Regions from separate parts of the Homo sapiens genome. Here region 2 is linked to region 1. The links come from fine-mapping of genetic effects on gene expression. A gene starts in region 1. The other region holds a variant in brackets. All regions are shown on one strand. Distances are from middle to middle.

Region 1 (4,391 bases):
ATTCATTCAAGTTGTACGTATCAATAGCTCATTACTTTTTATGGCTGAGTAGTGTCCCATGGCATGGATATACTCCAGTTTGCTTTCTATTCATTCACTAAGGACTGTTTGGCTTGTTTACAGTTTTTTTGTTTTTTTGTTTTTGAGATGGAGTCTCACTCTGTCGCCCAGGCTGGAGTGCAGTGGTGCAATCTTGGCTCACTGCAACCTCTGCCTCCCGGGTTCAAGTGATTCTCCTGCCTAAGCCTCCTGAGTAGGTGGGACTACAGGTACATGCCACCACGCCTGGCTAATTTTTTGTATTTTTAGTAGAGACGGGGTTTCGCCATGTTGCCCAGGCTGATCTCAAACTCCTGACCTCATGATCCGCCCGCCTTGGCCTCCCAAAGTGCTGGGATTACAGGTGTGAGCCACCATGCCTGGCCTGTTTTCAGTTTTTGACTATTAAAAATAAAGCCACCATGACATTCATGTACAGAGTTTTGTTTGAACATAAGTTTTGGTTTGTCTAGGATAAATACCCAGGAGTGTGATTGCTGGGTGATATGATAAGCATATGTGCAACTTTATAAGAAACTGTCAAACTGTTTTCTAGAGTGGTTATGCCATTTTATAGTCCTACCAGCAATGTTTGAGAGATCCGGTTGCTCTGCATCCTCACTAGCATTTAGTGCTGTCAGTACTTGTTATTTTAGCCATTTAAATAGGTGTGTAGTAGAATCTCATTGTGGTTTTAATATACATTTCCCTAATGGCCAATGACACTGAACACTGTTTTACATGTTTATTTGCCATCTGTATATCTTCTTTGGTGAAATGACTATTCAAGTCTTTGATCCATTTTCTAACTGGACTGTTTACTTACTCTGAGTTTATATGGTTCTTTATATATTCTGGATATGAGTCCTTTGTTGGATACATGCTTTGCAAATATTTTCTCCTAGTCCATGGCCTGTCTTTAAACCTTAGTGTTAATTGCCATGAAGGCACTGTCAACAAAGTCTACACTTCAGGAAAGGTGCAGAATGGAGTTCTCTGGATATAGTCAAATCACCTGAAGAGCTTTACCCTCAGAACAGGCGAACTAGAAAAAATTCTACAAGCCAAAGAAATAAATAGCAAGCTGAAAGATAGATCTGAAGAAATTAGCCAGAATGTGGCTCAGAGAAACAAAATGATGCAATATTTTAAAAATAATAATTTAGAACCTCAGAAGGTTTAACCTATGCCTAATAGGAATTCCAGGAGGAGAGTCTAGAGTAATGTTGTCCAATACAGTAGTAGCCAATAGCCACATGTCACTACTTAAAATGTAAATTAATTAAAACTAAATGAAGTTAAAAATGCAGTTCCTTGGTTGTACTGGCCACATTTCAGATGCTCAATAGCCACATGTGGCTGGTGGCTACCATATTGGACAGTGCAGATATAGAATACTACAGGAAATCCTACTGGACAGTGCTGATCTAGGTCATAAAACAAGTCTGAACAAATTTCAAAGAACTGGTATGATACAGATGTTTTGTGGAAATAAACTAGACATTAGAAATTAAAAACAAAATAACTCCTACTGCCTCCTCTCACCTTTTTCCCCATTACAATTCCACCTCTTAATGTCTTCATGTTCTTGATGAGAAGCAGAACGTCCCTACTGTGTTCCATGGCACCAAGTTCCCCAGAACCCGCCAGTCTCTGATGACAGAACATCCTGGACCGCCCAGCTCCACACCCCAACCCAAGAAGTTCTCTAAAACACTGACCATGACAGCCTGGGGTAGGTTTCCACTTTAACATTCTGACCAAAATTCTCAACTCGATGCAGTCAGAGTCTGCGCAACCTGGGACCTCGAGCCAAGAAATCCTCAAGTGACCTTACTTGGCAAAACCAACAAAACAACCAAATACAGGTCTCAAGCGATTTACAGCTCGGTGCTTAACTCGGTCACCGGCCGAGGGGCAGCCCTCTGGCGCCAAAGCCCCGCCTCTCTATGACGTCACACGAGGAGCCCTGAAGTGGCGGTCAAGCTTGAGGCGTCATCTGGCTGCGCCTAGTGGGCCGTTGCCTTACAGTTGCTGAGAGGAGGCGAGAGGCGGGGGCGCTAGGGCCGAGATCATGTCTGACTGGGAGAGGTTTCCTTGGCAGCAGAGGACGCTAGGTTTGGGATGAAAGAAGCTGGGCAGATGCAAAATCTGGAGAGCGCGAGGGCCGGGCGGTCAGTCAGCACCCAGACTGGCAGCATGACCGGTGAGTGTCCGGGACCCTGCTCCCGCCACCCTACCTTTCGCTCTGCCCTGTGCGTCTCCCGTCATTGAACTCCAGATTCCTTGTCTGAGCCTCTTTGCCTCCCCTGCTGCTTTTGGATGTCTCCTGCCCGCCCTCTGCGTGTCCCCTCCGCGGTCGCCAGGACCAATCGGCTCGGTCGCACTGGCTTTTGAAGTCTCGCTTTTTACCCCTGTTAGCTACTTCTCACAGGACCTAGAGCTGGGGCCTCTGAGGTCAAAGAGCCTGAACATTTCCAAACGGCGCTTTTGCCTTGATTTCCAAATTAACCGCACGTGACGCTTTCCTGTATTTCGACTGCTTTACCGTCGAAGGTCAGCGCATTTTTCGGGTTGTGTTCTAATCGCTTTCCTTTTAGCAACGCCCCATCACAGTCCAAAGAAAAGCTTGCACCACGACGACGTCAGATGCGAAGACTTTTCACAGCTTGCTTTGGGTTGTCCCCCTCAGCTATGTGTATTAGCTGTACCGTTTTTTCCTGCAGGGTGAGGGCTGGAGAAAGAAGGCTCAACTTTTTAAGTGGAGAAGGAGGTAGCCACGACTAAGGCTGAAGCGTCTACTGCTAAGATACCTCTGACTCTCTTGTCCCCTATCTTTTTCTGTGCCTCTTGCGAAAGCAGCTGGGCTTAGGCTGCAGCACCTAAGTGGCATTGAGATTGGCTCCCTTTTTCACCATTAGTAACAAAGTTTAAAGTGTTTGTCGTCTCTTTTGTAGGTCAGATACCAAGGCTTTCTAAAGTCAACCTTTTCACTCTGCTCAGCCTCTGGATGGAGCTCTTTCCAGCAGAAGCCCAGCGGCAAAAATCTCAGGTATAATTTGTTTCATAGTTTTTCCCCTTAGAAAAGCAGTGGTTTAAAATCTGAGTTTATTGCTCCAGTTTCTGTCATACCTAAAACCAAACTTAACAAGGCTTAAGATTTAAAAAATATCTTTATTGATTAACATGACACTTTATAATTCCCAGCCGTAATAAGTCATCTTCCATTCTAAAAATACTTTCTGAGAATACCATGTTTATCGGGTACTAATGGTATTCATATGTCAGTTCGGCTAATAAGATTATTGTCTATACCACATAATTTCCCCCAATTATATATACTGTTGGTGTTTTATCTAGGTAGTTTACTCCTCTGCCACAGAAATATATAAATTGCCTGGAGATAGAGACCATGTCTTATTTTACCTAGCATATACCCTTTAGAGTCTAGCATTATATGAGTGCTAATTGATTAATGTTGGATGGAAGTAGTCTCTTTTTGGATCTTGAAAGACAGGATCAAAACAGATTAGAAATGGGCTGTGTGCAGTGGCTCACGCCTGTAATCCTAGCACTTTGTGAGGCTGAGGTGGGTGGATCACCTGAGGTCAGGAGTTCAAAACCAGCCTGGGCAACATAGTGAAACCCCATCTCTATTAAACATACAAAAATTAGCCAGGAGTGGTGGTATCCGCCTGTAGTCCCAGTTACGCGGGAGGCTGAGGCATGAGAATCGCTTGAACGAATCGTTGGAGGTTACAGTGAGCTGAGATTGCACCACTGCACTCCAGCCTGGGTGACAGAGCAAGACTCCATCTCAAAAAAAAAATCAGAAATGTATAGTAAGAATAATCATAAAAGCCAATATATTGGAATTGGAAGTATAAACATCCTGCGTCTTTTCTTTCTCCTACCCTTGGGGCAACAAGGGGCTAGGTTCTCATTTTCCTCCATGCTTGGAATGGCATGATGCTAGGTTCTCATCATTTCTGTTTGATAATTTTGGAAGCTTAGGGTGTTGGCATTAATTTTTATAGGGGGCCACGGCCATTGGAAAATAGTATTAGGTTAAGTTGAGCATTTAAGACTTTTTTTAAAACAGAGGTAAAATGAGGGGGGTGGGGCAGAAAATTACACATGGCTTCTCACCACTCTAACAACATTACTGTTAATATTTTGGTGCTTCCAATCTTAAGCATGAGGTTTTTTATTTTTACTCTTACAAAGTTGTAGTTATATTCTGCATGTACTCGCTGAGGTTTCCAACTTGCCCATAATTCTGCTGAAAGGTTGCTTTAGATTTTCCAGAGAAAGACTATAAATCCTTAAATTCCCACAGTACTCTTAGGAGA
Region 2 (4,391 bases), 57 kb after region 1:
ATGCAGAGAGCTGCTCAGATGGGACACAAGTCTCAGAAGCAGAAATGCTGATGAATTGGCTGCAGGTGAGAGGCAGAGAGAACTCATGTGCCTTCCTGGGTTTCTGGCATGAACAACTGGGGGAATTTCAGGGGCATCAGCAGAGCTGGGGAAGCCAGGTGCAGGGAGTGACAGGAAGTCACATGCCATATTTTGAACTGTACCTTGGAGAGAGGGAGCCTGAGAGGCATCCAGCCAGCAGGTGAGTGCATGCATGAGCTTGGAGATTGCCGAAGTCGGCCCGGAGCCACAGAGGTGGGAGCCACGGTGGGGCACGCACAGACCACAGACCTGAAGCCTTGCAGGAAGACAGGGAGATGGAGAGGAGATGCGCAGGAGACTGAGTCCAGGCACAACGGTGCTCAGTGCTCGGCTCTGAGGTGGAGGAGGCTGAGCTGAGAGAGCACAGGAGGGTGAGGTTGCCTGGGCGACAGGAGAGGAGAGGGCCTGGAGAAGAGGCCACCAGCTCTGTCACCTGCTGCTGAGGGGTCAGATGAGCACAGGAAATCGCTACTGGATCTGGTGGCTCTGAGGCCCTGGATAGCCCTGGGAAGAGCATCTTCCAGGGAGGTGGGGAAGCCAGAGATGGGTGGGTTGTGAGGTACATCACAGGTGAGGAGGTGTAGCCCATTCGTGGAGAAATTGGAGAAGTTTTGCCCTGAAGGAGGGCAGAGAGACAGAAAAGGGGCTGGAGGGGCAGCTGAGGGATAAATGGTGCTTTTTTGACGGGTGACGCACATCTTGTGCAGGAACTACCTGAAAACTTGTGAAGACATTAGAAAGAAGAGCCAAGACCCAAGAAGGGAATTGAAGGTGCGAGGGAAACTGTCATGCCCGCCCTGCCCTGGCCTTCTTATACGGGTGCCTGTTCCCTGGCTGCAGGTCACGTGCCACATCTTGATTCTGATGGGCATAGCACATTGACAACTGAACAAAGCCACCCGGCTTGGAAATGGTCCCTGGTCAAGGTGAAGGACACGCCTGGTGCTGCCAGAGGCCACCAGGCAGCTGCAGGCACGCCCTCTTCCTTCCTCCCACACGCTTGGTAGCACAGAGCCTCATTCATCCAGGCCAGCAGGTCACAGCCATGGGAATGTCATGCTCAGTTCCCAGGGAAAAGGGCAGAGGCTTTTTCCCCTGCAGAAGAACCAGTCTGCACCTAGGGCCTTGCCCGTTTTCCCCAAGAGTCCTGTGATTATATAAGCATCATCTGTCCCTGATGCTGGGGTCCTGGTCAAGACTTCCCCAGGGCGGGGCTGGGGTGACACAGCTAGGCCCTGGCCTGGAGTTCAACCACCCTTTGTCCTGATGGCACTTTATAAAAACACTGTCAGCCTGGTCTCTGGGATAACAGGGTTACAAGCCTCTGGATGACTAATTGGCCCTCAGAACTAACTGGATCAAATACAAACTTTGGGATGATATTGCGTGCCCCCAGGCCAGGTGGAGACCTAGACTGAGCATGGACACTGCCATGGAGAAAGGACATGGGAACCGTGGGGTCCCCCTGCTGCCCAGCCACCCCCACACCTCGGGTTGAGGTGGGATGTAGGTTACAGATAAGGTTAAAATACAAATGGAGGCAGGTGAAAAGTTGGGTGGGTCCGGAGGTTTGAATCGCAGCAAGGAATGGATCGCTTCCTCTTCACCCAGACCTCAGCTGCTCCCTAAATCTCAGTGACCGCCAAATCGGTGCCTCTGGCCCACGTCTTTCTTGAGCCCCAGACTCATTTGTCCAACGGCTGCCTGGACATCCCCACGCCACGTCTCCAGGCACAGGACACTCGTGTGCCTCTGCCCCCC[A/G]TCCCGGGCTCCCTGTCTTGGCTGAGCACATCCCCTTCTACTCAGGTCACCCACGCCACAGGCCCATGTCCTCCAGAAATGGTTCAGCTATGCCTGGTCAATAGTAAATCCTAAGTATCTCCCAAGTTCTATGGCTGCTGCCTCTGGGCTCTGGGTTTGAATCCTGCACCACCATCTGCTCACTGTATAATTGGGTGAGCAACCCTCTCAGTCCCTGTTTCCATGCCTGTAATATTGGGATTGTGAAAGATGTCATAATCAGAATGGAGCCACTTTTGTTAAAAACAAATCCTGACAAATAGAGCCAAGGGAAGGCCATGAAGAGAAATATTCGCATGCATAAATGCCTAATAACAAAAACTACCACGGCAGACTATGAAAACTGCAACCTTGCACAAAAAATGCTTCTAGGAGGACAGCTGCCCAGTAACTACCTGTCCAGCCTTGGACTGGTGTCCCTCTTGCAATTAACCCTTGCAGCCAAGGATCATTACTTCAAAGCAACAATACAGTCCTCACTTTCCTTCACCTTTGCCTTCCTTCATCTCCCTGAAGGCACACGTGCTTTTTACTCTGGCAGGCATACTCCCTGGCAGTGCCCTATTCCTGAGTAAACATCACTTTCTTTGAGAGCCACTCTCTGGTTATTTAGGTTGACAGGATAATCACAGTACGCACCTCATAAGGTTTCTGAAGACTGATGTTAATACTCTAAAGCATCTGGAGGGGGACTGCCAGCAGCACCGAGTTCGCACTCGCTGTTACCAGCTGGCGCTCATCATCCCACCCTCCCTCATTGTTCCCCCTCCAGGCCCGGCTCCAGAGCTCTCCCCCACCAGACACACAGGTGTTCAGGTCACTTCCTGAATAAAGGCCAGCCGCCTTAATGATGGCGTCAGACCCTTAGCTGGGCATTTAAGGCTCCCTCCCGGCCCTCTCACATCCCCACATGCCCCGGACAAAGCGCACACGCCTCGTCATTTTCCAGCCATGCTTCGTGCCCACGGCCCTCCCTGCAGCGGGAATCTCTCGCTCTGGTGACGGGGCTAATGTGGGCGCCGAATCTGAGCCCGGCATGTCACCTACTTTACCTCGTTGGTTCCCACAACAATCCTGTGAGGCAGGTCCTCTTTTGGCCTGTTTCCTGGAAGCTCGGTGATTCTCAAGAGGGAACAGCTAGCCGTGGAGCCAGGATTTCAGTCCAGGTGTGGCCTATCCCAAAGTCCAGGTGGTTCTAGTTAATCCACACAAACCTCTCATGAGTAGATGACATTTCAAAGGAAAAAGGGACCTGACGTCTCCGAGATGGGAAAGGATGGTAGCAGGGTGTATGTCAGCATCTCCCCAGGGCAGAACACATCTGGCGGCATCTGCAATGTCTGTTTTGCTAAGCATGAGCGTGTTTCCACAATTCCCTCTCTGGCAGGTGATGAATTAGAGTTGGTCCCAAGAGCACATCGTGTCAGCTGTGAGGGGAGGTGAACTGGGGCGGGCCCCGTGTGGTCACAGCTGGCTGGCGTTGTCAGAGACCTCTGGCTCCCCTTGTTGTCAGGGTTCCCCATTCCCTGCACCTCCCCCTTCAGCTTCACCACTGTGGGCCCAGTGTGGGGGGCTCTGCACTGAAGGGTGCCTGCCCTTCTGTAGGTCCGCCATGTCCTCAGGGTCGGCAGAGGGATCTGCCCTTCCCCCCGGGCTCCTCACCTCCTGTCTATCCTCCCTTCTCTGCTGACTCGGCCCCAGTGCCAGCTGCAGGGGACAGACTTACAAAGGCCTCTGATTCCCCTGCCCCACGAGCTCCACCACCACAGGAGGCCTACAGTAACCCCGGTGTGTCACTCGGGGTCCTGTCCCAGGATCCATCCCTAACCAGCAAGGAGAATGAATTCAACAGATGTTAAATGAACAAATAAATGAGTAGTTGAATACATATTTTTGCTTTACAGCTTTAAATATCAGAACTAAAACTAAAAGTGATCTTATTTTTTCCAACCTTCCCTAAAGGATAAATTATCAATGTATATTGCAACATATTCTCCAAAGGGACCCTATGATCACAGTATTTTAAAGTAACACAGATGGCTCTCAGTGGAGTGATTAAATTGCATCTATGTTACATTGGTTGATGGTAAAGGGGTTGCGGCTTTTTGTGTGTTTTGATGGCGACTTTATTTTAGGGTATTGTAACTGCACATGCTCCTCCATGAGGAGGAAGTGATGAGGGAAGGCGGGGACCCTGGCAGGTATTGGATGTGCATCCACCATGAACTTCAGCCTCTGTAGCCCCATGGTGCTGGGGCCACTGGGAAATGGTGGAATGGCTGGCTGAGTGGCAATCGCTCCTGTCAGGAAATCTAAGCTAATGTTATGTCCAACTGAAAAAGAAAGCCAAGAAAACAAAACAGGTGCAGAATTGCAATCTGAAAAAATTTTTTAACACTTTAATTATTTAATTTTATTTTCTACAGATGAAGTCTCGCTACGTTGCCTAGGCTTGTCTCAAACTCCTGGGCTCAAGCAATCCTGATCCCCCAACTCTGCCATACCCGCCC

Alleles and levels. Positions count from the first base shown, and alleles are read on the strand shown. Sizes are in standard deviations (SD) of each study's normalised expression.
In carriers of allele A in region 2, the expression in prefrontal cortex of the gene that starts at base 2,051 in region 1 tends to be higher than with G alone (small effect, 0.20 SD a copy in BrainSeq).

Evidence for each region. PIP is the estimated chance that this variant, and not a neighbour inherited with it, causes the effect.
Region 2: its variant is the best candidate, but not a certain one, in a credible set for the expression of CDADC1 in prefrontal cortex (BrainSeq, PIP 0.80).

What each region holds. Positions count from the first base shown.
Region 1 is chr13:49,245,875-49,250,265 of GRCh38, forward strand. It overlaps CDADC1 (cytidine and dCMP deaminase domain containing 1), which reads left to right and starts at 2,051. Exons shown (of 10, transcript NM_030911.4): 1 at 2,051-2,245; 2 at 2,997-3,091. The coding sequence starts at 2,164. LOC105370203 (a long non-coding RNA gene) reads right to left here and starts at 1,966. Exons shown (of 2, transcript NR_135318.1): 1 at 1,761-1,966. RefSeq lists enhancers at 1,912-2,474, 1,944-2,173.
Region 2 is chr13:49,302,736-49,307,126 of GRCh38, forward strand. No RefSeq gene overlaps it. Among named protein-coding and RNA genes, the nearest start is that of CDADC1, 57 kb to the left of the region's middle. RefSeq lists a silencer at 938-1,232 and an enhancer at 3,462-3,961. The variant A/G (reference allele first, on the strand shown) is at 1,843.